2 linked regions of the Homo sapiens genome follow. The protein of the gene in region 2 purifies or fractionates together with the protein of the main gene of each other region. This does not show direct contact. Each region holds a gene or a part of one and is shown on either strand. Other genes may lie near its edges.

What was found.
Region 1: the proteins of ACO1 (region 2) and FBXL5 purify together in Homo sapiens (affinity purification with western blotting; 3 studies listed by BioGRID, with this or other methods). This does not show direct contact.

What each region holds. Positions count from the first base shown.
Region 1 is NC_000004.12:15,653,636-15,657,552, forward strand, and holds the start of FBXL5 (F-box/LRR-repeat protein 5), read right to left. Parts: upstream 1,723-3,917; 5' UTR 1,653-1,722; coding exon 1,569-1,652; intron 1-1,568.
Region 2 is NC_000009.12:32,429,557-32,433,473, reverse strand, and holds part of ACO1 (cytoplasmic aconitate hydratase), read right to left. Parts: intron 3,057-3,917; coding exon 2,900-3,056; intron 1,756-2,899; coding exon 1,631-1,755; intron 1-1,630. UniProt on the Homo sapiens protein: Bifunctional iron sensor that switches between 2 activities depending on iron availability. Iron deprivation, promotes its mRNA binding activity through which it regulates the expression of genes involved in iron uptake, sequestration and utilization.

The sequences.
Region 1 (3,917 bases), on a different chromosome or scaffold from region 2:
TGAGACCATTTTTTTTTTCTTTCCTGCTATTAAAGAATGGTGTCTGAATGAACGATATTCAAAAGCCAGAGAGGATAAAAACACTATAATACTGCTAAGTAAAAAATTCAGGGATATACCCTCTTGCTTAATGGCTTAACCATTCCTCATGCTTCTCCTAGATGAGTGGTTCTCACCCTCAGCTGCATACTGCACTCAAATGGAGAGCTTTAATCATTTATACCTGATGTCTGGGTGAAATCCTAATTTTAGTGACCTAGACATCAGGACTTCTAATAGTTTTTAGTTTAAGGCTAATAAGCAACCAAGGTTGCAAACCATTGTCCTAGACAGTCCTGGTGTTTCCAACTCATGTGAACTGGGTGTTTCTAAATTTTCAGAATGGAGGGAGGGAGAAGATGGAGTGCTAAGATTTGAAATTCAACGTCACTGCTTTAAATTGCTGGTCTTGAGTGTGGCCTAACAGTGAATACCCTGGGCATCCTCCAATCGCCTGGCTGAGCTATGAAACACCCCTCTTTTCTGTAGACAATGGTTCTGCATAATGCTATGCAATTTCTGAGAATTCCTAAAAGTTGATTTCTATGCTTAAACAGTAGTCATTTGAATGCTTTATTTAGTTGGATCATTTCCACAAGAAACGGGACTGCCTGAGGTTTGCAGATATCCATGACTTTCCCCAACATAAACTGACAAATACGTGGAATGTTAATATTGTTTTAAAATCACTAGCAAAGGGCCCTGAACCATCTCCACAAAAGTGCCTCTTCAGCTTATGCTGCACCAATTATGGGCCCAAAATGGTTCTCACAGTTAAACCAACTTTTCCTGAGGCCCCCTTTATTCGAGCTCATATAAAGAAATCCAAGAGAGAATTGCTGTCTTATAACAAAATCTACATCCAGTAAGTGTTCAGGGCAATAAAAGTTGCAAGGAAAACGATAACGACACATGAAGAGTGAAGGTTCTTCAGTTCTAAACTTGGCTTTTCTCCCAAATCAAACCAGTGAAGAAAGCCGGGGGTAAAAGGAACCGGGTAGCTGGGAGACGCTGCAGTTCCAGCCAGGAAGCCAGCGAGAGGTGCAGAGGATGGGTGGGTGTCTGCACGGAGAGCCCCGAACAGGCCCGGGGGAGTGACGGGGGACGGGAACAACTACTCGGTGCAGATGGGAGTCCACCGCAGGTGGCCGGCCGGGGCACCCAGGGCTTCGAGGAGGTAGGGCCGCTCTCCTTAGAGGCAGCAGCGGGAGTCCCAGCGCGGCGGTGGGGCCGGCCCGAGGGCGGCCAGTGACGCCGGTAGCGCCCCTCCTCAGCCGCCAGGCCCTCGGCAGGGGACGCCGCCCGCCCCGAGAGCACGTCCGAGGCGGCGGCCAGGCCGGCTCTGCGAAGGCCTCGCAGCGGGCGGGCAGGCTGCGGGAGCGGGCGGCGCTGACAGCTGCGCAGGCGGCTACTCGCGCGGCGACGGCACGGGGCTGCGGGCGCGGCGCAGGCCAGGCCGCCCCAAGAACCCAGCCCGCTCCCCATCGCCGCCCGCACCGCCCACAGCGGGAGGCTCAGCGCTCCGTTACCTTGTCGCAGTAGAGCCCCACCAGCTGCTTCATCCGCCAGTGTGGGGCGGTGAAGACGTCCACTTCTTCAGGAAAGGGCGCCATCGCCACTGCCTCAGCCTCCGCCTCAGCAGCCGCGGCCGCCGCCTCTCCATAGACACCCTCGCCGCGGGGCAGAGGCGGCGCGCCCCCTTGCGCATGCGCCCGCCCCGTCGGCGCGCGCGCCCGGTCGGCTTGGCCGGCGGGGACGCGGGGGCGCGCAGGCCGCCGCCATGCGATCCCTGCGGCCCACGTGACCGGGCGCGCGCAGAGGCTCGCGGCTTCTGCCTCCCGCCCCCACTCTTTTCGTTTTTTGTCGTCTTCATAAGCCGCAGAAGGAACCCAAACCTTTTCCCTGTTTCTTTCACTACATGAAAGCACAGTAGCTGAGGGTAGGGGAAAGTCGTTGCAGTGGCGCTCTCGGCGCTTCTCCCGTTGCTGCCCTGCCCACCACGGCCTTGAGGAGAGGCAGCCAAGCACAATGGCCGCGGTCAGGGCCGCGAGCTCTGCTTGTGCCCACGCCCCGACGCCTGCTTGGCCTGGGTGACCAATGCTTCTGGCCAGGACCTCCGGAGCTGCCCTTCGCCTCCCTGCGATTGGCCCGTGCCAGATTTTTCCTGGGGCCGAGCGCAGACCACCCCGGCCGCCACTCAAAGGCCGGGCCTGGCTCCCACCCAGCGGTTGGTGAACCAGAGCTGCGGGCTCTGAGAGCTTCGGTCCCGGGCGGCAGCCCACAGCGGGCGCGGGGCCTGGGTGCGAGGGGCGGGGCAGAGACCGCGAGAGAGAGTTCTCGTGAAATTCGGGAGACTCAACGTGGGGGAAAAACAGTATCTGGGGATCCAGGTGCGGAAATGCACCTCAAGTGCAGGAACGCGGGTCAGGGATAGGCCCGACGGGCCTTGGGGGTGGGGAGAAGGGTGAATAATGGAAGGTTGGTGCGGGAAAGAACCTTGGTACAAATCCCGCCATTTTAAGCGGAGGTTCGGAGAGAAAACAAGGTCACTAACCCAGGAAAATGTCTGCCTCTTTCCCATAAATCGCCTGGCCCTGGCCACAGACCTCCTGGAGACTCTGTTCTCTGCTCACGCCGGTCAGTCTTAGATTGGTTGGCTGGAGTACTGCTGGACAGATAGAGAAATAGGAGAAAACAGGGAAGCCTGAGAACCTTGGGAGGAATTGTTATTTGCTTAATGGCCAGAACCTCCAGGAGGGCAAGAACCAGATATGCTGTGTTCACCCTTGTTCTCTATTATCTATCACAGTTGCAAGACAACATGGGGATCAGTAAATAGTCAACAAATAATGGAGTAGAAGAAGGTGAGAAAGAACTTTGCAGTGGAATGCACCCTATTTAGTTCTAATCTTATATTACTATATGCTATTATAGACAGTGTGAACAGTGGTTAAACCACAGACTCTGGAAGTTAAGATTCCTGGTTTTGCCAGACACTAGCTATACAACCGTTAACAAGCTATATGACTTCTTTATGCCTCAGTTTGCTCTGACATGAAATGAAGCTAATAATACCTACCTCAGAATCTTTATGAGGATTTATATATTTGAAGCACTTATAACAGTACCGTCTGTAAGCTAGTAATACTTTTTTAAAGCAACTCTATGAGGTAGTGCTGCAGGAAATTAAGTCTTCAAGACATTCTAGTAGTTGCCTAGGGTCCCACAAATTAGTAAGTCAAAAATCTGTCATATAAATCTGGATCTGACAGTACCCCCAGAGTCATTGCATTAGTTGGGATACAGAGATGGCTTATTCACAGTCTGTCTTAAGAAGCAGGAATAAGGCTTAAGAAATAGAATAATAATAAAATATTTGATAAAGATTAATTTCTCTCTTCCTCCTTCTCCCTTTCACCCCGTTTCTCGTTCTTTTGCCAGGACTTTGCCTCTATATTTTTTAATAACCTCCAGAGAGCATTTTCTTATTTACCCTCTATTTCTTTACCTCATACTAATCTTTCACTCCAGCTATCTTGGAATGCAGAATCAGACCTCAGGTGAACCAGTTATATAGAGAAATGAGCTCCATGAGAACATGCACTTTGTTTTATCCTCAGCACTTAGAATGATGTCTGTCATAAAGTGAGTATTCAGTAAATATGTTGGAAAAAAGAATGAGGGTAGTTCATAGCACTGTGTAATTTCCTCATTTTTACTAATGTTTAATATGCTATGTTGTCTTGTCCAATCAACTGTTTGTGTCTGTGCTGTTCACTAGTGTATCCATCTGTAGAACCAGACACATTAAAAAGGTATTTGGCAACAACAACAAAAAAAGTCCATCCACACAGTTTCACTGTAACCCAGATTTGAAG
Region 2 (3,917 bases):
GCTTGAGCCCAGCAGCTCAAGACCAGCCTGGGCAAGATGGCAAAACCATGTCTCTACAAAAATAAAAAAAAAATTGTCTGGGTGTGGTGGCATGTGCCTGTAGTCCGAGCTACTCGAGAGGCTGAGATGGGAGGATTGCTTGAGCTCAGGAATTTGAGGTGGCAGTGAGCTATGATGACACTACTGCACTCCAGCCTGGGTGACAAAGCAAGACCTGGTCTCTGAAAAACAAACAACAACATACATATGCACCGTGATAGGCAGCTTCTAGGATGGCAGGAGGGATCCTGCCTCCTGGGATTCACATCCTTAGTTGACCCCCTCCTGTTGAGTGTGGGCTGAAGCTAGTGACTATCTCCTAGATTAGATTATTGAGACCTGCCTTCTGACTCTCTTGCTCTCTTGCTCTGATGGAAGCCAGCTACCATGTGTGAGTCATGAAGAGACCCTCATAGCAAGGTGCTGAGGGAGGCTTCTAGCGAACAGCCAGTGAGAAACGGAGGACCTCAGTGCAACAGCCCTTGAGGAACTTGATCCTGCCAATAGCCACATGAGTGAGCCTAAGTGGACCCTCCTCCAGAGACTGCAGCCCCAGATGACATCTTACTGGAACCCTGTGAAAGTACACAGTGAAGCTGTGCCTGGATTCTTGACCCACAGAAAATGGGAGACAATATATGTTTGTTGTTTCAACTCACTATATCTATTGCTATATCACAGCAATAGATAACTAATGCATATGCTTATCAATAACTTATGAAATAATAATCCAGATTGTACCAAAGGGGAAATTACTCTCTGAGTGTTTTGGGAAGTGGCCTTCCAGGTCACACAAACACTGGGTAGCAAATGACAGCTGCTATGCATTAAAATTGGTTTGAATTCTGTCCACAGGTCCATTAACTCGGCCTTTGGAGGAAGGCATTTAACATAATGCCTGCCAAGCTCCCTAACACCATCTCCCAAGGAGCACCTTGTGAAGAGTGCAGCGTGTGAACATCACACCTACATCACCCCTTCCCCTAGACAGTTCTACCCTCATTTAAACCATCAGCCGCAGTCAGAAGCCCTTGGGTCAGCTGAATGCAGAAGGCGGGGAAAGGAATAATATCCAAGAGTCTCAGAATATAATGCTGAGCCCCACACATTTCCTCCTATTTGTAAAATGCACGGAAAGTTTTATTTCAGTAGTTTGGCACTTCCTACTGAGTGGCCTTAATTTCTTTATTTTTAAGTGTGCAAAAATGCATTCTGAGAGGTGCATTCGACCAATGGACTCCACTTAGTGACACAATATAGTGACCACCAGGGGTCCTCGCCACAGCTGACACACACCCCTGGGTGTCCGAGAAAGGCGTGGGGTTTTGGAGAGCTGAACCTGAGGAGGCCTTTCTTCTCTAGGCTGTCACCAACTTGTCCAAATCTGGGAACATCTGGGGGAGGTGGGGTTTGTAAAAATGCGAGTCACAGGAGAAAAATGACGGAGAACCACCTCCCCAGTCATCTGAAGAAATAAATGTTACTTTATATAGTTTATACTTCCGTTAGCCTTGAGGTCTGCAGACAGGACACAAAGGGAGCAGCTTTCCCTTAGATCCTCTGGGGCGGGGAGGGCAGTGTGGGACCTCACCTCTATTTTCTGATAGACTTCCTTAAACATCCCCGGGATGACATACTGACGCTCCACTGCCTGGATCTCGTCTCTAGTCGGCCAGATATCTTTCAGAAATACCTGCTGTCCCTTTGCATTTACTCCTGGGGAAAAAATGTTTATTAATGAGAAAACTTTCTAATATGCAATTTTCATGATTATACAGAGTCAAGCCTCGTTCTCCTCGGTAGTTATGTTCTATAAAGCCCGTGTGAACACTGAATGACTGGATACGGAATCACTGCCACTGGAGGAAATACAGGGTTAGGTTCCTGCAAGCCTCTGGTCACCCATCAATACATAACCTTGCTTCATGTGAGGTTTATTATTCACCTTATTTAATAGCAATTGTTGACTCACTGACATTGAACTTCCAGCGAAGCCTATCTAAACACAGTACGCATCACAGTCGGCTTGTGCTCAAGAACACCAGAAGCACTTCAGGACTATGCTCAAGGACCATTTTGAACAGCAAAATCACCACAAAAAGCACAAAAATGCAAAAAGCATGGCACTACGTAGACCAAGAAAAGGATCCTTATATATCGCAGGAGAGCTGAAACAAGAAGTCAGAGTGACGCCTTATCAGATCTCAGCATAGAACGTGTGTGTTGAATGATATAAAGTTTTCACCCCTTTGTGCTGATCTGTGAATGACCGTGAACATACTACAAATACTGATTTGGGGGTTAAAATACATTTTAGTGACTACGCAAATCTGCAAACATAGAACTCACAAATAACGAGGATCAACTGTACGTCTAAAGTTATGATTTCCTAAAAGTAAATTTCAGAGGCATTGTTTTCATATTATCTATTCGGCTTAGAATAGATTGAGGCAGGCAGAGCAAGCAAGCTGATCTGGGGAAAGGAAATGATGTATCATTTCTTTGGAATTCTGAGAAGTTGAAATATCTGCAGTATGTTTCTACAGAGTATATATTGAAACAATGCCTATCATTAAAGTGAGAGCTAGAAAGGGAGGAACTACAGAAGAAACCAGAATAGCAAGATGTCTATTCCTTTTGGCACCTGTTTTCCTTTCGTTATCCTTTACCCTCAGTAGATTCTTGTTTTAACTACTGCAGTTAAGTCTTAGCTGTATATTGGGGAATAAAGAAATTATTCTCTTCTTTGTCTTATCCCTGGAGGCTCTATGCTTCATTTCTTATTAAGGAAAGCAGTTTCTTCTAGTAATATTTCTGAATTCACTGGAAAAAAATTATGGCTGCACAAACAAAATCTTACCCAATGGCTCTTTCTCAAAGTCGATTCTGATGGTTCCAGCAATTGCATATGCTATTACTAAGGGGGGAGAGGCTAAATAGTTGGCCCGGGTGTTGGGGTGAACTCGACCTTCAAAATTCCTGTTTCCAGATAGTACTCCAACAGCTACAAGGTCTCCCTGAGTAAGGCAAGAGAAAAATCAGGTCACTAAAAGATACTGACTAGGCTTCTTGTCTCAGACCATTGGCAAGAGTTTCCACATCGCAAGGATACAGTCCTTTAAGCTGCCCTTTCACTTGGTTCTCTCCCACTAGAGGGGAGAAGGGTACACTGGGGTGTCCCCATGGGAGATACTCTGGGTCAAAGGAAGCAGAGACATGTTTAGTGATTTCTGCTCACGAGAAAATATCAGGTAGTTAGAAGGCAACATACTAGTTATTGCTGCCTGGGGCCCAAGAACAGGTGGGAAAGACCTAACAGTTGATCGTTAAAGGAAGTCACAATGCACAATTATAGAATACGTAGATTCTATAATTAATGCAAAGCAAACCAAATAATATCTTTCAAGGTTCAGCATTTTGGGGATAAAAATCAAGCCAAAGCAATTTAGTTTAGATTCGTTTGTGTGGAGACTTGTCTCACTTTGAACCAATTTTCAAATTATTTGGGTTGGTGCAAAAGTAATTGTGGTCTTCATCACTGAAATGGCAAAAATCACAGTTACTTTTGCACTAACCCAATACCTATAACAAACAACTGTAGAGCCCTTTGTAGTGAAAACCAGCCAGTACTGAGCACTTGAGTGCCAGACACTGCACTAAGTGACTTATGTTTATCATCATCTTAATTCTCACAACTCTATAAAATAGATACTATTATCATCTCCAATATACAGTTGTGAAAACCCAGGCACAGATAGGTTAATTAACTTGCCCAAGGTTACCCAGCTAGTAATTTTAACTAAACTCAAAAGATCATACTCTAAACCACATCCCCTGCTTCCATGGACCTTCTTGAAAATATCAGCATTTTTGTCACA